7 linked regions of the Homo sapiens genome follow. The protein of the gene in region 1 purifies or fractionates together with the protein of each later gene. This does not show direct contact. Each region holds a gene or a part of one and is shown on either strand. Other genes may lie near its edges.

Region 1 (3,500 bases):
ACTCTTGGAAGGCAGAACCTAGCGTGAATCATTCTTATCCCTTTGCACAGAGGGCTCAATCTGAAAACCCTGATGTTTAATTGCTCATTCAGAAAAGCCCAAGTAAGGGCAGGATGCTAAAACTGGAACTAACTGTGAAAGGACTCTGGTAAATTGGATGTATAGTTCATCGAACTGTAAGAGGGCATCTCTGTCTTTTGCTACCCTATACGGGGATAGAAGAAAAAACACGCTTTTAAGGGATGAATTTACAAAATTTCAGCTCACAAACATTTTGTTTAAAAATCAGTAATATAAAAAAATTGTACTCACAGCCAATAGCCAAGTAACGGAAAAAGAGCCACCCGCTGATCAATGGTTCCTTTGGGTTCCGGGGAGGTTTATTCATGATGTCCAGATCAGGAGGGTTGAACCCCAGTGCAGTGGCAGGCAGGCCATCTGTCACCAGATTGACCCAGAGCAGCTGAACAGGAATCAAAGCCTCGGGAAATCCAAGGGCTGCTGTCAGGAAAATACTGTTTCCAATCAAGAAAAGAAGACAAAGAGAGCCCAAATGACTTCTGGCCACTATTTAAAGAGCATCATCAACCCGCCCTCCTCCAGAAAAATAAATGACAACAACTTCAGGTAATCTGTAAAATACTTATACCCAATTTTGAATTAAAGCTCAATTTTACTTAGTTTATTACTTAAATTCAGATGACTGAGGCCAGGTGCGGTGGCTTATGCCTGTAATCCCAGCACTTTGGGAAGCCAAGGTGGGCAGACTGGCTGAGCTCAGCAGTTAAGAGACCAGCCTGGGCAACATGGTGAAACCTCATTTCTACTAAAACACAAAAAAATGGCAGGGAGTGGTGGCGCATGCCTGTAATCCCAGCTGTTCGGGAGGCTTGAACCCAGGAGGTGGAGGGGACAGTGAGCTGAGATCGTGCCACTGCCCGAAGCCTGGGCGACAGCGAGACTGTCTCAAAAAAATAAATAAAAATAAAAAAATTATTAAGCTGACTGAGATAAAGCCAACTTTTGGAGGGCAAGAATTTCATGTGACTACCTGGTTAATGTTAGCTCAGTCTCACGTTAAAGAGGATTCTTTGCACATTGGGGCAGCTGCAGACAACCCTCCCGAGGGCCAAAGCACCACTGCTTCCATAAGGCATTTCTGTCTTGCCCACTCCCCTCTTCCAACTCAGGCACAAAGACCAAAGCTGCTGCAATCTGGAGAGCAAACTGCGAGAACTGGGCTCCATGACCCATTTAGATAAAGGCGTACAGTAAGTGATGCTGTCACAGAGACCTACCAGACAACTTCCCCGACGTTGGACGAGATGAGGTAGCGGATGAACTGTTTCATGTTGTTGTAGATTGCCCGCCCCTCCTCAACGGCAGCCACAATGGTGGAGAAGTTGTCATCCGCCAGGACCATCTCAGAGGCGGTTTTAGCCACCGCAGTGCCAGAGCCCATAGCAATGCCAATCTCGGCTTTCTTCAGAGCAGGAGCATCGTTCACGCCATCGCCAGTCTGAAAGGGAAAGCAATGGTTGGGTCAGCCAACTGGCATGCCACATTCATACCCCTAGGCAAAAGCCCACTGAATGGGAAGCAGGAGGAAAATGAATAGAGCCGTAGGTCTCTTGGCAAAGAGTTTTAGAATTTTTGTTTCATAAGTTGGTGTCACAAAACACATTTTACCTAGGAAATGTAAAATTACCAAATAAGTTTACCGAAGTGGGACAAAGGGGACTTCAAATTTATCTGTATTATCTTACTAAAAACAAAAACACAACCTATGTGGCAGTCAAGAGGAAGCACTTGTATCCACATGGATAAATTTCAAGTAGAAAGATGCAGATTGCAAAAATATGCAAATTTTTATTTTTCTGAGATGGAGTCCCGCTCTGTCGCCCAGGCTGTAGTGCAGTGGCGCAGTCTCGGCTCACTGCACGCCTCCTGGGTTCAAGCGATTCTCCTGCCTCAATCTCCCGAGTAGCTGGGATTACAGGCGCCCACCACCACACCCAGCAATTTTTTGTATTTTTAGTACAGACGGGGTTTCACCATGTTGGCCAGGCTGGTCTTGAACTCCTGACCCCAAGTGATTCACCTGCCTCGGCCTCCCAAGTGTTGGGGTTACAGGCATGAGCCACTGCACTCGGCCAAAAAATATGCCTTCAAAAGCATGCAAAAATAATACTGTCTACAGACACAAAAACAGCACTCCCATGTTTTTAATATTTTTGCTAAATTCCAACTTCAGTTACCTCTGGGGGAGAGGAGAGTACACTTATAGTATGTTTCAAAACTAAGATTTTTTTTTAAAAGAGAAGAAAGTAAATTTAACATAATGTATCTGGGTGAAAATCAGGTGAGGGGAAGAATACTGGAAATGCTTCATCAATAGCCAGCTCTTAAAGAACTTAAAAGCAGGGTGATCCAAACAACTGACTGATTACATCCTCAATTTTCAGAAAACTTACAATAAAAACACGTCTCATTTAAAAAAGAGACTAGATCACCAGATTGTTCCTCTGGGACTGATCTGGAAGGCCCTTCTGGGTTTTAAACGACTCTAGGATCTTCCCTGCAAGTAGCACACAACATGCTAACCACTGATTCACCGAATTCTAGAGAAAAGACCCAAATCATGACAAATTCCAAATTAGGGAGCTATGACAAAAAAATTCAGTGGTCAAAATTAGAGGCTACTATGTGCTTGTGTAGCCTGAGTCACCTGTACATGTTCAAACATGCTCACCATAGCTGTAATCTCATCAAAAGACTGAAGAAATTCTACGATTTTAGACTTGTGGGAGGGTTCAACTCGAGCAAAACAGCGGGCGTTCAGGCAGGCGTCTCGCTGGGCGGAGGGGTTGAGTTCATCAAACTCCCGGCCTGTGAAAGCTTTTGACGTCACGTCCTCATCCTGCCCGAAGATGCCGATGCGGCGACAGATGGCCACAGCAGTGCCCTTGTTGTCCCCAGTGATCATGATGACCCGGATGCCTGCTTGCCGGCACAGCTTCACGGAGGAGGCCACCTCGATTCTCGGAGGATCCAGCATGCCCACGCAGCCAACGAAGGTCAGATTGGTCTAAAATAAGAGCATCACTTTAAATAAAAGTGGCAAGTTCTAGTTTTTGTCCCCTAGTTTGAAAAATGCCCAGTTAAACATTGAGACAGGTTTCTGCATTTTTTTTCTTTTTTTTTTTTTGAGGCGGAGTTTCGCTCTTGTTGCCCAGGCTGGAGTGCCATGGCGCAATCTCAGCTCACTGCGACCTCCGCCTCCCAGGTTCAAGAGACTCTTCTGCCTCAGCCTCCAGGGTAGCTGGGACTACAGGTATGCGCCACCACACCTGGCTAATTTTGTATTTTTAGTAGAGATGTGGTTTCTCCATGTTGGTCAGGCTGGTCTCAAACCCCCAACCCCAGGTGATCTGCCAGCCTCGGCCTCCCAAAGTGCTGAGATTACAGGCATTTGAGCCACCGTGCCTGGCGGTTTTTGC
Region 2 (3,500 bases), on another chromosome or scaffold:
AGGCTGCTACATGTGCAGGTGAAACCAGAGAAAGCTCAACCTATTCATAAACTCCTGGATAACTCTGAGACCCAAAGGGCCCAGTGCAAAGTAATAGCTGGGCAAACTTGAAAACAGCCTCAACTTTGAATATGCTCCTCCATCCACAAACAGATCCATTGGCAAAGAACATAACTCTTATTAGGTCACGGTGTTTGAAGTACAATTATACCTGACTACTAAACTATGCAGACACAGGGGAACTCCTAAGAAGCCTCACTTAAAAATAAAACCAAGAATATTAAAATATGTTGAAAGAACCAAAGAAAATCATATTTAAAAATTGAAGGGGATGTATGACAACCACGAATCAGCAAGTAGAGATTCTCAGTAAGGACACAGAAATTACACAGAAACAAAAAGCCAAATCCCAAGTTGAAAAGTATAAAGTTTAAAATTGGATGATAATTTGTTATGTTTTAAGAACCTTAAAAATAATCACACCTCTTGCATCTATCTACTCCATTTCTTGGTTTAATCAGGAGAATGAGAGATATACACAGAAATGTGTAAACAGCAATATTTTTTACAGATTTGTAATCATAAAGAAATATACAAGCTAAATGTCTATTAGCAGAAACTGGCTAAATGACATTCCTCATAGTTGAAAACTTAATAAACAACAACATGGGAGACTATACATTTAAAATGTCAACACTATTAAACTCTTTGGAAGAACACATGAAAAAAATAATTTTGTGGTTGAGTACTTTAGAATTAATTTCCAAGAAAACTACAGTTAATTTGCACAGGTTCAATCCATTCTAACTACTTACCTTCTATTTAAAGGGTTTTACATAAACAAACAAAGTCAACAGACCAAAACAACTGAAACCCAGGAAGAAAATGAACCTTAATATTTTTTTGAATAGTAATGAATTAAGGACAAAAAAACAAATTGTCATAAAATAAAAGATACCTTGTTTCCCAAGGCCGGGCAGTAAAGGCATAGGGCTTAGAGGTTAGGGCACCTACAGGGCAGATATCAATGATATTCCCAGACAGTTCAGACATGAACATCTTTTCAATGTATGTGCCAACTTGCATATCATTTCCTCTGCCTGTTGTTCCCAAATCATCTACTCCTGCAATCTCACTTGCAAACCTACAAGATAAAAAATGTGTCATCAATGGTCAAGTCCAGCAAAATTATTTCCTTTCTTATTCATGATCACAAAGAGATGATTTTCCAAACACTAAAAAGAAATGAGTATATTTTTAAAGGTGAGCACAGTCCTAGAATAAAAAATAATGAAATGTTTGCATTTAATTGAGGTGTAACACACAGGCAGAAACTTGTACAAATCATATGTGTACAACTCACCAAGTTATGAGTGAAAGCAAATGCTTATAGATTTTAATTTTTAAATCCACCTGAAGTTGGTACTAAATGAAAGTGAACTTATTTTATTCATATATCAGAAACAGCATCCCTCTTCTCCCACCCAAAAAAAGTAGCCATTCTTTCCAATGTTATTATTCATCAAATTGTGACTATTAAGTATACAATTATATTCTATAATAGAAAAAAAAGGAAAAAAAGTTACCTGATGCAGCGAGTACACTGTATACATCTTGTCATGATGGTCTTTACCAATGGCCCAATGTTCTTGTCTTCCACAGCACGCTTCCCCTCTAAAAATCGGCTCCTATCATTTCCAAACATCATGGACTGGTCCTTAAGTAGATTATGAAAGAGTCAATCTCATGCTGCTAATAAAATTAAAATCTGAGACAACCAAAAAGATTGACAGAATTCTACTACATACCTGCAGATCACATTCACCTCCCTGGTCACAAATAGGACAGTCCAATGGGTGATTTGCTAATAAGAACTCCATCACACCTTCCCTGTATGAAAATTGTAACATATAAAATGACTCTCAAATACACACACACTGACATTAACTGCTGGCACTCAAAATGACCTATAGACTTTATTTTTTTTTTTTGAGATGGTGTCTCGCTCTGTTGCTCAGGCTGCAGTGCAGTGGCACAATCTTGGCTCACTGCAGCCTCCTGCCTCCACCTCTCAGGTTCAAGCGATTCTCTTGCCTCAGCCTCCCGAGTATCTAGGATTACAGATGCCCACCACCACACCTGGCTAATTTTTGTATTTTTAGTAGAGGCAGGGTTTCATCATGTTGGTCAGGCTGGTCTCGAACTCCTGACCTCAAGTGATCCTCCCGCCCTGGCGTCCCAAAGTGCTAGAATTACAGGCGTGAGCCACTGTGCCAGGCCCACATATAGGCCATTTAAACAACCTTCATAGATGTATATTTGTTATACAATTAATAGTAATTTTACATTTAATATCAGAAATGCCAATTATCTATCATTGTGGTAATATTTTTTTTAAGAGACGGGGTCTTGCTATGTTGCCCAGGCTGGACTCGAGCTCCTGGGCTCAAGTGATCCTCCCGAGTATCATTCTGGTAGTATTAAACACACAATCTGGAAAATGCTTAGAGGAGCCTAGAATAAAGTATCATTAGAGAACATAGAAAATTATGATTTTTGGTCAGGTTTGGTGGCTCACGTCTGTAATCCCAGAACTATGGGAGGGAGGCTGAGGCAGGATGATCACCTGAGGCCAGGAGTTCAAGCCCAGCCTGGACAACATAGTGAGACCTCGTTTCAAAAAATAAAGAAAATTGTAACTTTTAACAATACCGAATGATCAAAAGTTGCTGAATGGTCCTCAGAAAATATTCACATTAATTCAAAATAAAAACAAACACAATCAATCCCAGTATAGTATAGTAGTAGCTTAGTAAGTCCAGATTCACCCTTCTTCACAAGTTGAGCAAGTTACTAAAGAAGGATTTTTAATGCTGATCCTAAAGCTCAATACCATAAACTCCTGACTTCACCTTCTCTACTATGTAGTACTCACTTCTATTGCTCCTAGAAGCTGAGCACACCAACTTCTTCCGAGTTTGATATTAAATTCTTAATCTATGGGAAGGTCTAAATACCAAAATGTGCAATTTTCTGCTTTATGAAAGGGTACTACATTGAATAACAATAAAGTACCTGGCTTTTTTGGATTTTTCTGAGTTTGTTAGGATATTCCAACCCTTCATTACTGGCATGGCACAAGCAGCTACAACCTGGGATTTCAATGAAAAAAAAAAATGTGTATTTGTATTTATTTGTGATTACAAGCAACTCAATATATAAAAATGTTAAATTATATAAAAACATTAAATTATACATTTGATAACAGGCAAAGAATAGGGTATTTTTTAAAACTGAATTTTGTTAAGTTTTCATATTCATAATACGATGATCTAGTACTTTGCATTTATCTCAGAAATAAAACATCCTGGTTTTTAGGTTTATTCTAATAGTCAATGCAATTTTTTATTCTGCTCTGAAACAGAACACCAAATAACTGCTTTGATTAGCAGGCACTATTGAATAAAAAAATTGCATACACCAAAATGAAATTAAACTAC
Region 3 (3,500 bases), on another chromosome or scaffold:
TCACTACATAAAGCCATACTTTTTTCTTAGAGCGTTTCCTCCTTGCTTCATCTATTTGATTAGAATAATAAAATTGATTATAATAAAATATCTATCTCATGTCTCATAATAGAAGGTGTTCTGTAGTTTCTATTGTTGTTTACAACTTAAATACTGGCTTTTGTTTAAGATTTTTAGGTAAGATTTTCTTTCCAAAGGTCATTTCTAAAGTTATTTACATTAAAAAGTTATTTACATTAAAATCGACTTTAAAAAAAGTTAACATTTATATATATGTTATTTTTCATAAGCATTTCTAATGACCATTTTTTTTGTAATGACCATATTTTTTTTAAATTTAGAGTTTCTCCACCTGGTGGTGATTTTTCTGATCCAGTTACATCTGCCACTCTTGGTATCGTTCAGGTATGTCTTTCCCTAGTATAGTCAACTTCTGAGCCTTTCCTCCTCTCTGCAGCCCCTGCTGTTCTAATGCGATCTAATGTAATCGTTGTGAAGTATTTAATTTAGTCTCTAAAGGATAGGCAATGGTAAAGTCTGGTTTAGAAACACTCTTAACACAGAGCCTTTAATACTGTCTGTTTTTTTCTTAGCTGTTTACATAGGATTTATAATAAACTTAATAATATATAAGTGGAAAATATAGGTAGCAAAAATTTTATTAGTATTAGAGTAGTATTATCCTTTAAGTCATAGTAACCCTAGTTATAGAAACAAAGAGGCCCAAAAATGTGTAATACCCAGAAGTTATTTCACTTCACAGTATGATCCAAGGCTCTCTTCTGTTTAGTGATAATTCTGAGTCCAGGATTCTTTCCATCTTGTGACTCCACTGTCACCTAGCCTGGTGATCATCTGCATCTAGCTGACACAAGGGAGCTGGGCCTTGTGGAGAAGGCATACCCACCTTTTTTGAACCTTGGATTCAAAAGTGACACAGTCACTCCACTCATTCTATTAGCCACATCCAGGTGAAAGCAAGGCTGGAAAATGCAGTTTCTGCCTAAGCATTTGCTTTCCAGTGACAAGACATGAATTTTAGTGGATAGGTAGCCAGCTTGGCTATTAAAAGAAGCCCAAATAAAAGATGTGTACAAATCAGAGCTATAGTTAAAAAAAAAAAGTGATATGTGTATATTATTCATGTGGGAAAAACAGAATATTTACTTGTGTTTCTGACAGTATCAGAGAAAAGGAAATGTCAGAGGCTAAATGTACAACTCTCAAGCTTTTTAACGTTTGCTAAAATTTTGAGTTTTAAATTATGGGGAAAGAGGGAACAGAGTTAGAAATGCATGGAATATCTGTGAATGTTTGCCCTTACAAAAATCACTGTCAGTTGTTGTTGGATTGGCCCTGTGAATGATAGGCAACTAAATTTAATCAAAACACTTAGATGTTTTTGTTTTGTTTGTTTTGATACGGAGTTTCACTCTTGTTGCCCAGGCTGGAGTGCAATGGCACAAACTTAGCTCACTGCAACCTCCACCTCCCGGGTTCAAGTGATTCTCCTGCCTCAGCCTCCCAAGTAGGTGGGATTATAGGCACCCGCCACCACACCTGGCTAATTTTTTGTGTTTTTAATAGAGACAATATTTCACTATGTTGGCCAGGCTGGTCTTGAACTCCTGACCTCAGGTGATCCACCCGCCTCAGCCTCCCAAAGTGCAGGGATTACAAGCGTGAGCCACCATGCCTGGCCCAGAACAGTTAAAAAAAAAATTTTTTTTTTTTTGAGATGGAATCTCACCCCCATCATGCAGGCTGGAGTGCAGTGGCGTGATCTCAGCTCACTGCAACCTTCATCTTCCGGGTTCAAGCAATTCTTCCTCCTCAGCCTCCCAAGTAAGCTGGCATTACAGGCATGCGCCACCACCACGCCCGGATAATTTTTGTATTTTAGTACAGACAGGGTTTTGCCATGTTGGCCAGGCTGGTCTCGAACTCCTGACCTCAGGTGATCCACCTGCCTCAGCCTCCCAGAGTGCTAGGATTACAGGCGTGAGCCACCATGCCTGGCCAGTTAGAGGTTTTTAATCAAAGTAAAGTGTGTATTCGATCTACATAAACCTTTTCTGGTTCTATTGTACCATAATAATTTTCAAAAGAGTAAATTAATTTTTCTTTTTGCTTTTGGATTTGGCACAGTATTAAGAAAATAGAGGTAAATTTTAAATTCGATTTGTAGGTATTATGCACTTGGAAAATGAAAGGAAATAGATTATTGTCATTTTCTGCAAGTTTTATTCTGTTTTAATTTTACTTAGTATATACTAAAACGATGTATAATTTGACCAGTGAATTGTAGAATTGCATATTTAGGGGTCAGGCATGGTGGCTCATGCCTGTAATTCCAGCACTTTGGGAGGCCAGGGATCACATGAGGTCAGGAGTTCGAGACAAGCCTAGCCAACATGGTGAAACCCCATCTCTACTAAAAGTACAAAAATTAGCCGGGCCTGATGGCGCATGCTTGTAATCCCAGCTACTGGTGAGGCTGAGTCAGGAGAATTGTTTGAACCCATGAGGTGGAGGTTGTAGTGAGCCGAGATCATGCCACTGCACTCCAGCCTGGGTGACAGAGCAAGCCTCTGTCTCAAAAACAAAAAAAAAAGAATTGCATAGTTGGGACAAACATGCTTCGGTATTTTTTAACTTTGTTTTTTGAGAAAAATTACTGTTTTTGTGTGTGTGTTTTTTTTAATCAGGTGTTCTGGGGCTTAGATAAGAAACTAGCTCAACGTAAGCATTTCCCCTCTGTCAATTGGCTCATCAGCTACAGCAAGTATATGCGTGCCTTGGATGAATACTATGACAAACACTTCACAGAGTTCGTTCCTCTGAGGACGAAAGCTAAGGAAATTCTGCAGGAAGAAGAAGACCTGGCAGAAATTGTACAGCTTGTGGGAAAGGTGAGTTGTTAAATTCCATGGAAGATAGATCTGTGGGTTACACTGGGGTGTTTCAAGGACAGATAGAGCCTTGGATATTACAGATTCTTGCCTAGCAAAATAAATATTTATTAAATATTTTTAATTGAAATTTTCTATTCATTATAGTACTTAGCATGGTTTTTGGGTATATTGTATGTGAGAAAGAAACATTTGATTTACTTTTATCTTGAAATGGAATATACCCATCACCAACCAAATTAGAGGTAGTAGATTTAGGATTTGTTAGCATACATTTTTGTAGGAATGCTAGGGCTAGGTTTCAGAAGGATTGGCTTCTAGTTCCTCCAATAATTAGCTATTGGCCTTAAACAGGTGAGTTACATTCTTGTGCCTGTATCTTGGATTCTTCAAGGAAAGATGGTGTAATTAAATTTAGGCAAATTAAATGCCAGAATGAAAAGACTTCTCAGATAGTATGCAATGCTAGTTAGTACTCAGAGTTCTTTGTCTGGTTTTGTTCTTTTTATTACATGTTACAAAGTCATCTCCTAATTTATTCCAAAAAAGGTTAATATTAGGAGATAGCTAACATTCTAACATGTATTA
Region 4 (3,500 bases), on another chromosome or scaffold:
CTTGATAGTACAAGTGGGTCAGACAGTTTAAACTTTGAGATTATATCCCAGCTGAATGGCTAGAGGTCAATCTCCTACAGAAAATATATTTTGAAGCATAGGGTTGAAAGGGAAATAAGTTATATATTTGCTATAATCATAACAACCAACATATAGCTTTCTTTCATATTATTTTATTAGTACTTATAAAAACAATTTATGAAAATATTTTCCTTTTCAAGATATAGAAACTACGCTCTGCAAAATATACATACCCATAGTTGTTACAATACATATCCTTGTATACACCTTGGACATTGTGTTTAAGAATCACACCCTGTAAGGGCTAGAAGAAACATTTTCTCTAACCTCAGTTATATAGTGTGACATTCAAGTACTTAAACTACATTGTTCAAACAAAACATGTCTCTAGTGTATGGGCCTAAAGGGATTTAACTTTCTAGGTGCCACTGATTCTTTCACTGTGCAAGGTAAAGAACTGGAAGAGGGTTCCCTGAGAGTTAATTCACCTTAGGTAGCTCAAGTAGTGGTTTACTGTCCATACTTTATCATGGAACTAAGGAAGGGAGGAAGGCCATGGAAATTCAACTTGGGCAGGTCTCCTCTCTATCATCCCTATCTACGAAGCATGGCCCCTATGTGATGATTTCTGAGACCTCTAGAGTTCTCAAATGCTCCTGATTCTGTAATTATCTAAGATATTTGCAGAATGATGTTTTTGCAAGTCTAAATTCCAATACTGTAAATCAGGTGGAACAGAGATGACTCACCTACATAGACTTCATTTAGGGTTTGTCAGGTGTCAAGGCAATTGATAAAATCAGCAAGCCAAAAATTCCCCCATTGGAACTATTGGAAAAGATTCTTTCTCACTAAGGCACGAACCCCAGAAGCCAAGTTCCTCTTTGCTTTGGAAAAATTATGATGAGAGGGTAGGAAAGAGCCTATAACCTTTCAACTCTGCAGGCTTAAGATAATGACAGATGCTTCATCTGACACAGTAAGAGCTGGAAGCTATTGCAACCTCACCAATAAAGGGCTCATTACAACAAGTAACCATTTATGTATACTCCCTAAGTCCTGACTAACCTCCCAAGCTTTTCTAGATATTAAATTCTCTCTAACTGCAAAGTATTGGTCTGATGAAGTTCCAGGTGTAAAACGTGCTGTTTGAATTCATGGCGTTAGTGTCATGGTGCTGCATCATGGTATGGCACTGACATTTAACATCATGCTGATAAACTAGAATTCATAGTGATTTTATTTCAATGCAGGAAACTATGAAAGTCAATCAAACATGGATTCACAAGTCTTTACATTTAATGTATAACATAAAGCATTATTACACATAATTTCATAACTATAAAAATAAGTTTAATACATTACCATATTTTAAAAAATTACTTTAAAAACATATACTCCAAAGTCTTCTATTTCATTTAGAGAATAATGGAGGTATCTATTAGGGTGAATCATATGAAACGATGGTTTTTCTAAGTTAAAATAGTAAAATCTTGGCAATTACATATGGTTCAACCTAATAAGATCCTGAGAAAATTTTATTTGGCATCACACTATAAATTCAAGGGGAATTTATAGAAAATCACATTTCTAGTGAAGAGAAAACACTTCAGGATGGAAACGTGCACACTGGTCATGCCAAGATTTCTCTTTGTGATTTAGAGATCTGAAATCTTGGAATGTTAAGAAAAATTTAGTGCAGTTTCAAAAAAAAGTGAGGACAATTAAAATTATAGTATGCTAGCTGCAGTTGCTAATGCCACTGAAACAAAACTACTAGCCAAATTTGGCAATTTAAGTGTTTTAGAGGTGACATAATAAAAATTCCAGCATTAAAATGAAAAGGCACAAATATGAGTTACAAGTATGATAATCATTTATAAAATCCTTGAAAATAAGGCCAATTCATTTGTATTATTAACACCATTAAGCAGGCACCTATTCTAAGCTTCAACTTCATCCTCCTAAATAGAATAAGGTTGCAAATGAATTATCAACATAATACTAATTATAGCAGCATTATCAATTGTCTGGAAGGCATAGTTTATAAAGATCATGGTAGTAGAACCAAGTTTCTTAGGCTCTACACTGCTAAAAGAATATCTAAAATAGCCTCCCCACCCATATCCCATCAGTACCAAAAATACATTTTAAAAATTACATAAATATTACTAGCCATAAAATGTTTTGGTTTTTCTTCAAACAATGAGCTCTCCTCTCACCAACTTGACCCCAACAACAACAACAAAAAAAACCAAAACCAAAACCAAAGCTACCAAAAAATTGTTACACCAAACAGACTAGCTATTCTTAACTAAAGACATACTATATTCAAAAATGGTACTTTAGGCAATTTATTAAATACAACCAATGAAGAAAATGCAGATTTTCCAGATGTGTGCGTATGCTGTATGTGAATTAGGTGATGGTGTACTTGAAAAAAATATGTATTTCAGCAATGATGCTTCATTTGGAACTTTGGTACCATTTACGAATGGCCGCTCCAACATTACTGGCTACTACGCAGAGAGCACCACCCACTGTCCACCACGTTGGCACATTATTAAAGAAAATAATCTGAAAGATAAAAGCAAAGACCACATCCATTGTCTTCATTATTGCTACTGGCCCTGCTTTTTCTATTTGAAGTGCTTTTGTGATAAATATCTGACCCCCCAAACCAAAGAGCCCAATGAATATGAGAAATAGCCTGTCCAACCCACAGTAAGGCAGACTCCACTCTCCTAATACAGAGAGGATGATGACACTTTCAACGAGGCCAAGTACTACATAATACCAAATGCTCAGAAAGTAGTCCACAGATTTTCCCATTTTTCTTAGGATAACTAGAGTCGATGCAGCAAATACGGCACTTCCAATTGCTGCGAATGTTCCCTTAAGGTGGCCTGAATAGCTTTCTTCCATCCCCGAAGTGTCGGAACCAAACAAAAATGGTGGTCTCACGATAAGGATCACTCCAGTGATTGTGAACACGGTGAAAAGAGCATCCCAAGGGCTATATTTTTCCTTGAGACATATCCAAGCAAATATGGACGTAAACACTGGACTGCTAAACGTGATAACTGTGGCATCAGCGAGGGACATTGTCTGGTAAGCATAGTATATAAGCATCATGGCGGTAGAACCAAGGACTCCTCTGAGAATGAGGAAAATTCGTTGACCTTTTGGGCCTATAAACCCAGTTCTGTAAATTCAAATGAAGAAATGCATATTAAATGAAATTAATATTTGTTTTTAAATTACAATTTGTAATTAAACATTATTTTAAAAGTACTAAATATCAAAAAATGAGGGAATAGTAAATTAATTATAATATCCACAAATGAATATTATATACTTTTTAAAAATAGTATTTTCTAAGTATAGTTAATGACAGTAAAGTGTTCACAGTAAAAGCAAAACCAGTGCAAGTGAATTACATGCATAGTAAAATTATAATTCAATTAATATAGATATTT
Region 5 (3,500 bases), on another chromosome or scaffold:
TCCTGGGTTCAAGCAATTCTCCTGCCTCAGCCTCCTGAGTAGCTGGGATTACAGGTGTGAGTCACCATGCCTGGCTACTTTTTTTGTATTTTTAGTAGAGGCGAGGTTTCACCATGTTGGTCAGGCTGGTCTCGAACTCCTGACCTTGTGATCCACCCGCCTCGGCCTCCCCAAGTGCTGGGATTACAGGTGTGAGCCACCATGCCCAGGCTCTGACTCCTGTTTTTTAACCTTTGACTCCCACCTGCCTGCCTGGTTTCCAATGTCTCAGGAGTGATATTTTAAAAATTAATTTAAAATTAATTAATTTTCAGACAAGGTCTCGCTCTGTCACCCAGGCTGGAGTGTAGTGGTGCATCACAGCTCACTGCAGCCTCCACCTCCCGGGCTCAAGCAGTCCTCCCACCTCAGCCTCCCAAGTAGCTGGGACTGCAGACACGCAACATCACACCAGGCTAATTAAAAAAAATTTTTTTTCCTTTTTGAGACGGAGTTTCACTCTTGTTGCCCAGGCTGGAGTGCAATGGCACGATCTGGGCTCACTGCAACCTCTGGCTCCTGGGTTCAAGCGATTCTCCTGCCTCAGCCTCCCAAGTAGCTGGGATTACAGGCATGCGCCACCACGCCTAACTAATTTTGTATTTTTAGTATAGATGGGGTTTCTCCATGTTGGTCAGGCTGGTCTTCAACTCCCGACCTCAGGTGATCTGCATGCCTCAGCCTCCCAAAGTGCTGGGATTACAGGCATGAGCCACAGCGCCCAGCCGCAATTTTAAAATTTTTTGTAGAGATGGGGGTCTCACTCTGTCACCCAACCTGATGTGCAGTGGCATGATCACAGCTCACCACAGCCTCAACTTCCTGGGCTCAAGTGATCCTCCCGCCTCAGCCTCCTGAGTAACTGGGACTACAAGCAGCCCCACCATGCCCGGCCCGTCAGGCATGACTTCAGTCCACCTGGGAAATCCTCGAGCCCTCGGGGGCAGGGCAGGATGCTACCTCCGCCGGGATCCCCCCGACCAGCACCCCCAGGCCTACGAATTCACCAGGGGGCTCCTTTGAAATCTCAACCCACAGCACACAAGAGTCCTGGGCCCGGGCACCCACATGCAAATCCACAACAGGCCAGACACTGGGCTCACCAGGATGCGTTTCTTGACGTCCTCCATGCCGTAGTGGTCTTCCTCCAGCACTGCCTGTGCCCGCGCCAGGTCCAGGTTCTCGTTGCTGTACTTGCCCCAAGGGATGGACGTGAGCCAGTCTAGGTAGTTGCGGGTGACACTGCCAGGGGACAGATGGAGAGATGCTGAGTGGAGCTCACGAGCTGCCTGTCTCTCTGCTGGACTTGGCTGGGTGGTTGCAAGGGGCTTGAAACCCATGTGTGGGGCTGAGCGCGGTGGCTCACGCCTGTAATCCCAGCTCTTTGGGAGGCCCAGGTGGGAGGATCACTTGAGCCCAGGAGTTCAAGACCAGCCTGAGCAACTCAGCAAGACCCCATCTCTATAAAACAATTTACAGGCCAGGCACAGTGGCTCACGCCTGTAATCCCAGAATTTTGGGAGGCCGAGGCAGGCGGATCACAAGGTCAGGAGATCGAGACCATCCTGGCTAGCACGGTGAAACCCTGTCTCTACTAAAAATACAAAAAATGCTTCTGCCTCTGCCTCTGCCCTCTGCCTCTCCCCTTTCCACGGTCTCCCCTTTCCCTCTTTCCATGGTCTCCCTCTGATGCCGAGCCGAGGCTGGACTGTGTGCTGCCATCTTGGCTCACTGCAACCTCCCTGCCTGGTTCTCCTGCCTGAGCCTGCCGAGTGCCTGCGATTGCAGGCGCGCGCCGCCACGCCTGACTGGTTTTCCTATTTTTTTGGTGGAGACGGGGTTTCACTGTGTTGGCCGGGCTGGTCTCCAGGTCCTAACCGCGAGTGGTCCGCCGGCCTCGGCCTCCCGAGGTGCCGGGATTGCAGACGGAGTCTCGTTCACTCAGTGCTCAATGGTGCCCAGGCTGGAGTGCAGTGGCGTGATCTCGGCTCGCTACAACCTCCACCTCCCAGCCGCCTGCCTTAGCCTCCCAAAGTGCCGAGATTGCAGCCTCTGCCCGGCCGCCACCCTGTCTGGGAAGTGAGGAGCGTCTCTGCCTGGCCGCCCATCGTCTGGGATGTGAGGAGCCCCTCTGCCTGGCTGCCCAGTCTGGAAGGTGAGGAGCGTCTCTGCCCGGCCGCCCATCATCTGAGATGTGGGGAGCGCCTCTGCCCCGCCGCCCTGTCTGGGATATGAGGAGCGCCTCTGCCCGGCCGCGACCCCGTCTGGGAGGGGAAGAGCGTCTCTGCCCGGCAGCCCTGAGAAGTGAGGAGACCCTCTGCCTGGCAACCGACCCGTCTGAGAAGTGAGGAGCGTCTCCGCCCAGCAGCCACCCCGTCCGGGAGGGAGGTGGGGGGGTCAGCCCCCCACCCGGCCAGCCGCCCCGTCCGGGAGGTGAGGGGCGCCTCTGCCCGGCCGCCCCTACTGGGAAGTGAGGAGCCCCTCTGCCCGGCCAGCCGCCCCCTCCGGGAGGGAGGAGTGGGGGTCAGCCCCCCGCCCGGCTAGCCGCCCCGTCTGGGAGGGAGGTTGGGGGGGGGGTCAGCCCCCCACCAGGCCAGCTGCCCCATCCGGGAGGGAGGTGGAGGCGTCAGCCCCCCGCCCAGCCAGCCGCCCCGTCCGGGAGGGAGGTGGGGGGGTCAGCCCCCCGCCCGGCCAGCCGCCCCGTCCGGGAGGTGAGGGGCGCCTCTGCCCGGCCGCCCCTACTGGGAAGTGAGGAGCCCCTCTGCCTGGCCAGCCGCCCCCTCTGGGAGGGAGGAGTGGGGGTCAGCCCCCCGCCCGGCCAGCCGCCCCATCTGGGAGGTGTACCCAACAGCTCATTGAGAACGGGCCATGATGACAATGGCAGTTTTGTGGAATAGAAAAGGGGGAAAGGATTGAGAAATCGGATGGTTGCCGTGTCTGTGTAGAAAGAAGTAGACATGAGAGACTTTTCATTTTGTTCTGTACTAAGAAAAATTCTTCTGCCTTGGGATCCTGTTGATCGGTGACCTTACCCCCAACCCTGTGCTCTCTGAAACATGTGCTGTGTCCACTCAGGGTTAAATGGATTAAGGGCGGTGCAAGATGTGCTTTGTTAAACAGATGCTTGAAGGCAGCATGCTGGTTAAGAGTCATCACCACTCCCTAATCTCAAGTACCCAGGGACACAAACACTGCGGAAGGCCGCAGGGTCCTCTGCCTAGGAAAACCAGAGACCCTTGTTCACTTGTTTATCTGCTGACCCTCCCTCCACTATTGTCCTATGACCCTGCCAAATCCCCCTCTGCGAGAAACACCCAAGAATGATCAATAAAAAAAAAAAAAAAAATTAGCTGGGCGTGGCAGCGGACACCTGTAGTTCCAGCTACTCGGGAGGCTGAGGCAGGAGAATGGCATGAACCCGAGAGGCGGAGCTTGCAGTGAGCCGAGATCGTGCCACTGCA
Region 6 (3,500 bases), on another chromosome or scaffold:
CCTAAATGAGTCAATCTAGCCAGCTGGAAACTTACTGCTGCCAAAATCTGTCCCAGAAAGACATGGATACCAAATGGAAATATCTGGGCCAGACCACTGTTGTGGTGGAGGAGGCAGGTGCTGCAGAAAAAGAGAGCAGCAAAAAATTTGTTAGAAACAGCTCTTCCTAAACACAGAGGAGCCTCTGGGAGTGGACTGGCCTGGCACAGCAGCTAGCAGAGGACAGGGACAATCACCCTATTTTGTTCAGATGGACCTACCAAGGAGATGAAAAGTGAGAAGAATCTTACCTGTGGCACACTGGCATTCATAGCCATTCGGGTGATCGATACACTTTGCCCCATTCAGACACGGAGTACTGGAACAGTCATCAATATCAATCTGGCAAACTGGCCCAGTGAAACCTCAAAAAGGGACAGTGGTAACATGAGTCAAAGGATTATCTTGTGTCTCCCTTTACCATGAGAATGATGTTAGGTTACTAGCAGGGCTTATACCAATGGGTCAATAAGCCTATGCTTTATTATTCTCCCCAACAGGTAACTGGAATAACCAGGTGACACTCAGGGAATCAGAGGCACTTGTGGTGTGTCTCTACCATTGCTTCTTCACAGACAGACTTCACTTCTAAATGAAGGATGTAGGAAGTGAAATTTATAGGTGGAACCTCAAACAAGTAACTGTAGCTTCAGAGGCAACAGAAACCTTCTCTCTGAAGATACAATGGGGTAAGATGCAATCTATGGAGGACAATTTGGCATATCTTCAAAAATAGCTTGAGGAAAAAAAAGGAGAGACAGAGAATCTTGGAAAAATTGGCATGTGTTGTCTGTTTCTGAACTCATGGGTGAAATGTCTAAAAATAACAGTCTCACAGAGGGCCTTCAAGAATATGACCCATGGGAAAAAAATAAAATCCCGAATAGCCTACAACTAAGGCTTCTGTGAGGTATGAGCATTCTGAAATATATACACAGACGAAGAGGTCATGGGCCATTCAAGAATAGACTTGGACTTTTGGCCACAAAGGACTTGTAAGATATAGTAGCTAAAACAAATTCTCTATTTCTGTACACACACACTCCTATCACCAAGCACTTACTCTAATGATTTCCTCATGCACAGCCCACACACATTCTCTCCCTGCTCTCTTCCCTGTGGTCAGTTGGCTTTGTGCTTTAAGAGAAAACAGGGCCAGGTCGTGGGCACTTACCAGGAGGACACAGGCACTGGAAACGATTGACTTTATCCACACACTGCCCATTGTTCACACAAGGGTTGCTCTGACATTCATTTATTTCTAATTCACAATGCACACCTTTGAAACCTAAACAAAACAGACCACACAAGTGGCTTAAAGAGAGAGAAAGGTGTATTCCAGACAAGGAAGCACAAATTTGCAATGATAACTACATCCTTTGCGAGTACACACATTTCTGCAGAGAAAAAAGGAACTCTGCCATGATGAGAAATAGTCACTCCAAGTGTCAAGCAGGACAGGGCATACTGTGAAATACCCATGTCACTGTGAAAAGCGGGAAGGGATTACATTAAAAGACATTGGCAAGACCTAGCATATAAACAAGGACTGCTCCACATTTTCTGTGATAAATCCATACTTTCTGGACTGTGGAAGGCCCAAAATGTCCCCACTCTATGTTCCTAAAGACAAGCTGAGCTGGAGCTGTTGTTGCCTTCAGGGTGCAGTTCAAGGTCAGCAGTGCCTTTCAAGGCTGGAGTGGCCGGCAGCCTTAATCAGGCAGAGCAGCCAATGTTAGCCATCATTTCAAGCTGGATTTGGCTGTATCCTCTCAAAATTAAAGACATGGTCTATGCAGAAGAGCTCCAGAATACAACTAAACATGTACTGCACTTTAGATAAATGGAAACTTCCTATATAATTGTGGATAAAATTTATTTATATAAATGGAATGGTATGGTATTTGTAATTACATGAAGGTATCAGGAAAACTTGCTATTTAAAGGATTCTTACAGTAAATCATTTTTGAAATTTTCTATTACATGTGGATTTTGATATAACAGGCTTGTTTAATTTGGTCTACATAGCTTGATGAATTCTAGCACTGCCTTACTCTTTGAGTAAGGAAGGTTTGCTTGTGAACCCTGACTTCCTCTAGTCCCCAGTCAGCAAAGGAAATCAAATGCTGACAGAGCTCATCAGACTGCAATAGTATACTGAATGCTCTACCAAGAGAAGTTCAGAACAGTCCCTCCTCTCTAGACCCAACATGCTGATGGGCCCATTTACCTGGCATGCACAGACATGTGAAGCCTCCAATCTTATCCAGACAGGTAGCATCATTCTGGCAGGGGTCTGAATGGCACTCATTGATGTCCATCTCACAACGAGGTCCTGCATAACCCTTCAGACACTCACAGTGGAAGGCGCCATCCGTGTTCACACATTTTCCTGCATGCTCACAAGGATTGCTATTGGCTGAAAGACACAAGTACCAATTACTGGGATCAAAGCAGTTGAGTTTCCACAAATGTGAACAATAGAAGAGCATCTGATGGTTATAGCATCAGGGCCAGGCCTTCAATAATATCATTCCCAATTTTCTATTTTTTTTTCCTTAATTTAAAAAGAAATAAAAGCGGAGTATCCTCAACTGTTATGCATTTCTGCTATTGCAGTTTCTGCCCAAACTGTCATTGAGGTAGGGCTTTATATTAAGAATCAAGTACATACGTTTCATACAGTTAATCCCCAGAATGGAATATATGGTTATGGCTATGCTGAAAGGTCACTTGTAAACACTGGCCATGTAGCAAGAGTAATCTGAGGTTTGGGTGTATGTAATTTGCTTCTACAGTAAAATGTGCTTCAGTTTAAACATTTGCTGAGCTCAACAGACACTTCACAGAACAGAAAAAGTTCTGCTTACTCACCCATGGCACATTCATCCACATCTTCTGTGCAGTCAGCCCCTTTGTAGCCTTGTGGGCAGGTGCAAATATATTGCCCATTTAGGGGGTTGGTGTCACACAGTGCCCCCTTGTGGCAAGGATTGCTGATGCATGCATCATCCAGATGACACAGGAGACCTGTCACAGGGTGGGGCAAAGGACAACTAAGAGAAAATGTCTCTCACTTGGGGAAGAGCTTTCTCTTTCACCCAGGAGGGAAAACCTCATGATCAGTTCCTCAGAATCCAACATGGAGATTTATACGCAACTTCTGCTTTGCCTGACCCTACCTTGGGGACATGCTTGGCCACCAGCAAAGCACCTAGATGCAACCCTAGACTCTGACCCTGAGCTCTCAGCTAGACCTCTCCTCCAGGACAGAGACATCTACAGGCCAGAAGATAAGAAGACGGAGACAGGAAAGTGGAGCTATCTTCCAGATAGTGTGCCAGATTTAGCAAATAAAATAGAGGATGTCCAGTTGAATTTTAGATAAACAAGAAGTAATTTTTAGTATGTCTCAAATATTCCATACATCCTATATTTTATCCGGAATCCTACTTCCCCA
Region 7 (3,050 bases), on another chromosome or scaffold:
TGTGTCATAACCACATACTCTTGATATAGGAGCCTCTAGGTTCAAGAAACATTCCTCCTGCAGACAGAGTCAGGATGCTTAACTTCAAGAATTTTTTTTACTCACAGAAATGAAATAGTGCAACTTAAAATATTTCACTTACTAAAAATACAATTGCATCTAAGGACATTAAAAATATTTAAGTATACTGTAATATGAAAAAAGCAGGTAACAGCATGTTCGCATGATCCCAGTTTTATTATGTGTTTTCATGTATGCATATGCATTTTATACCTGTATATATATCTATTGTCTAAGCCAAACTGGGATAATATCAAATACGCTGTTCTACGAATATAAATGGAAAGAATTATAAAAATGCAACAAATGTTCACAGTAGTTAACTCTGCAGCATGAAACTGGCAATAATATATACCTTCTCATTTTCTGTTTTTCTCACATTTTATACAATGCACATGTATTACTTTCATAATAAATGTTTGTAATTCCTCCATGCCCCAGCCAGACTGAACTTCTATCAGTTACTTAACTGTGTTCTCATCTCTCTCATAGTCTAGCTTTTGCAGATAATGCTGGGTCTCTGGCCACTCACACCCCAAGTCCACAGCTCTTTGCCTGACTGATGTGTGTACAAATCTCAGGTTATTACCTGAGGAATCACTCCCGCTGGGAAGCCTTCCTTGACAGCACCTCCCCAGCCCTACAGGGCAGATGAGGAAGGGGCTTGTGCTCTGAGCTCCCAAAGCACCGAACTCGGCATAATCCATTGTAGTTGCCCAATTATCTGTCTTCCATGAGAGACTATGAGTCCCATGAGGCTAGAGATCTGATTTAAACATGAAAACCTCAACCACAGTAGAACACTGTAGAAAATTATTTTCAGGAGAAAAAAAATGTTACTCAAGTAAAATATTCAAATTTGAATTTATTTTGAAATAGGGTCTCACTCTCTCGCCCAGGCTGAAGTGCAGTGGTGCAAACACGGCTCACTGCAACCTCGATCTTCCAGACTCAAGCAATCCCACCTCAGACTACCAAGTAGCTGTGACCACTTGTGCACATCACCGACGCCTTCCTTTGTTCCTTTTCTTTTCGTTTTTTTCTTCCCTTTCCTTCCCTTCCTTCCCCTTTCTTCCCTTTCTTTTTTTTTTTTTTTTTTTTTTTCAGAAATGAGGTCTTCTTATGTTGCCCAGGCTGGTCTCAAACTCCTGGGCTCAAGTGATCCCCTAGCCTCAGCCTCCCAAACTGCTAGGATTACAGGTGTGAGTCCCCAAGCCCAGACTGAAAATAAAACGTTTAAAGGCTTAAAAAATTTAAAAGGGATATGTGATTAAACTATTCTAAGGAAAATAATATTACTTTTAACATTCACAGCTATTACTTAAAATAAAACCTTCATATTTATTCATGTGTTTACACATTGCCTTGCTTTATAAAGGATTTAAGGAGGTCCAGTTTTTTTTACATATTATACTATGTTCACATTTTAATTTGAGCAAAATTTTTACATGAAGGAATCATGATACCTCATGCTTTATCCCTACCCCCTGTGTGATTTCTTCCAGTGACAAGTGTATTGGGGCAGAAAGAAAATGCAAACAGCACAAATTAGCTCCAAAGAGAACCTACTGGACATTTACAGACCTCCCTTTGGCCCCAATAACTATCATGATTTACAATATCAAACACCAAATAAGTGTTGGTATTCCCTAGCAACTGGAAATCTCCACGAACAACTTTAGGACTTTTAATACACACGGTTTAAAGAGCCACCTAAGAGATTCCACTACTAATAAGCTGAAAAGAGATGACAGACTGGGTGGATTATTTCTTGTTTGCAACAAGTAATTTTAAAGGGCTTTAAATTGTCAATTTGGGATTAAGTCGGTTTTATTACTTTAGCTGACACTGGGCTGTTTTTCCATCTTCCCTGAATACTGAACTCTTCATAAACAAGCTATCCATGGAGAATTAAGGGCAAAATATTTTACTAAACGTCTTTGATTTTATACCTGTTATAAAATGACTGTTCTCTTGAACCAGTAACTTGGAAAGCTGGCCTACCACAAGAAGTTCTGTTGGTATTTGTTAAAATCACTCCTTTCAGCATAATGACTAACATCATCAAACTGGATTTTTATTTTTTCAAATAGCAATGCTCCTAACTCCTCAAGAATGCAAGCATCACTCTTTCCAGGAATACATCTATATGTCTGCACGAGCATAGAAAAACATCTGCTGTGAAGACACACTTGAACTGTAAACAGTGGTTACCCTTTGAGGCTGGGAATGACAAGGAGGTGAGAGAAGACTCCACGTTGTGCTTTATAATATATTGTTTTGGTTTTTCGAAAACAGTATTAATTTTGTAATAAATGATGCTGAAATAAAGGAAAACAGTAAAGTGAATAATGATTTTCTTATATGAATAAAAGTTCCTGTGTTATGTTACATAAATTTGTGATTTTACACATAGGGCTTCCTTAATTTGGAAACGATTACTGTAAATTATGTAGCATTAAGTTGTTATAATACGCTATTATAAGTATATAAAATATAAAAATCATGGAAGATAATTCAAGGATATATAAGAGAAGACTACGAATAGGATATCAGTCTTTTTAAGAATATATGCTAACTGACTGAAACAGCTTGAAATTCTCTTCACCAACAAAAGTATATTAAAGAGCCTTAAGTTATTTCTTCCATGAACTTCACTTTACACTTATTTTTAAGCAGTTGGAAATAAGACCCTTAGGTCAATTAAGCAGCTGTACTTACTTCTCACTGAATTGGTTCACATATAAATAATTTATGTGTGAGTATGTTTCTCTGCACTACCACCAAAACAGAACACCTTGTTCAGCCTCAGTGTTTTCATGCAGAAGCTGTATACATGTACGTACGTACGTATGTACACACACACACAAACACACACACACACACAGAAAAAAAATACCGAATCCCACTGGCAAGTTTGTAGATTAATGAAGACAAAGTATCTCTCCATTATAAATACATGACGCCATAACCATAGCAACCATGTGCCC

What was found.
Region 2: the proteins of ATP2A2 (region 1) and NDUFS1 fractionate together in Homo sapiens (co-fractionation; one large-scale study listed by BioGRID). This does not show direct contact.
Region 3: the proteins of ATP2A2 (region 1) and ATP6V1A fractionate together in Homo sapiens (co-fractionation; one large-scale study listed by BioGRID). This does not show direct contact.
Region 4: the proteins of ATP2A2 (region 1) and SLC35G1 purify together in Homo sapiens (co-immunoprecipitation; one study listed by IntAct). This does not show direct contact.
Region 5: the proteins of ATP2A2 (region 1) and LONP1 fractionate together in Homo sapiens (co-fractionation; one large-scale study listed by BioGRID). This does not show direct contact.
Region 6: the proteins of ATP2A2 (region 1) and NOTCH2 fractionate together in Homo sapiens (co-fractionation; one large-scale study listed by BioGRID). This does not show direct contact.
Region 7: the proteins of ATP2A2 (region 1) and BCKDHB fractionate together in Homo sapiens (co-fractionation; one large-scale study listed by BioGRID). This does not show direct contact.

What each region holds. Positions count from the first base shown.
Region 1 is NC_000012.12:110,340,247-110,343,746, reverse strand, and holds part of ATP2A2 (sarcoplasmic/endoplasmic reticulum calcium ATPase 2), read right to left. Parts: intron 3,089-3,500; coding exon 2,753-3,088; intron 1,520-2,752; coding exon 1,299-1,519; intron 516-1,298; coding exon 313-515; intron 1-312.
Region 2 is NC_000002.12:206,145,945-206,149,444, forward strand, and holds part of NDUFS1 (NADH-ubiquinone oxidoreductase 75 kDa subunit, mitochondrial isoform 1 precursor), read right to left. Parts: intron 3,153-3,500; coding exon 3,076-3,152; intron 1,891-3,075; coding exon 1,809-1,890; intron 1,718-1,808; coding exon 1,587-1,717; intron 1,145-1,586; coding exon 959-1,144; intron 1-958.
Region 3 is NC_000003.12:113,795,535-113,799,034, forward strand, and holds part of ATP6V1A (V-type proton ATPase catalytic subunit A), read left to right. Parts: intron 1-341; coding exon 342-405; intron 406-2,708; coding exon 2,709-2,912; intron 2,913-3,500. UniProt on the Homo sapiens protein: Catalytic subunit of the V1 complex of vacuolar(H+)-ATPase (V-ATPase), a multisubunit enzyme composed of a peripheral complex (V1) that hydrolyzes ATP and a membrane integral complex (V0) that translocates protons.
Region 4 is NC_000010.11:93,900,478-93,903,977, reverse strand, and holds the end of SLC35G1 (solute carrier family 35 member G1), read right to left. Parts: intron 3,227-3,500; coding exon 2,488-3,226; 3' UTR 154-2,487; downstream 1-153. UniProt on the Homo sapiens protein: May play a role in intracellular calcium sensing and homeostasis. May act as a negative regulator of plasma membrane calcium-transporting ATPases preventing calcium efflux from the cell.
Region 5 is NC_000019.10:5,699,647-5,703,146, forward strand, and holds part of LONP1 (lon protease homolog, mitochondrial isoform 1 precursor), read right to left. Parts: intron 1,282-3,500; coding exon 1,143-1,281; intron 1-1,142. UniProt on the Homo sapiens protein: ATP-dependent serine protease that mediates the selective degradation of misfolded, unassembled or oxidatively damaged polypeptides as well as certain short-lived regulatory proteins in the mitochondrial matrix.
Region 6 is NC_000001.11:119,965,163-119,968,662, forward strand, and holds part of NOTCH2 (neurogenic locus notch homolog protein 2 isoform 1 preproprotein), read right to left. Parts: intron 3,071-3,500; coding exon 2,915-3,070; intron 2,460-2,914; coding exon 2,271-2,459; intron 1,328-2,270; coding exon 1,214-1,327; intron 405-1,213; coding exon 291-404; intron 1-290. UniProt on the Homo sapiens protein: Functions as a receptor for membrane-bound ligands Jagged-1 (JAG1), Jagged-2 (JAG2) and Delta-1 (DLL1) to regulate cell-fate determination.
Region 7 is NC_000006.12:80,340,671-80,343,720, reverse strand, and holds part of BCKDHB (2-oxoisovalerate dehydrogenase subunit beta, mitochondrial isoform 1 precursor), read right to left. Parts: exon of another isoform or gene 1,081-3,050; intron 58-1,080; coding exon 1-57. UniProt on the Homo sapiens protein: Together with BCKDHA forms the heterotetrameric E1 subunit of the mitochondrial branched-chain alpha-ketoacid dehydrogenase (BCKD) complex.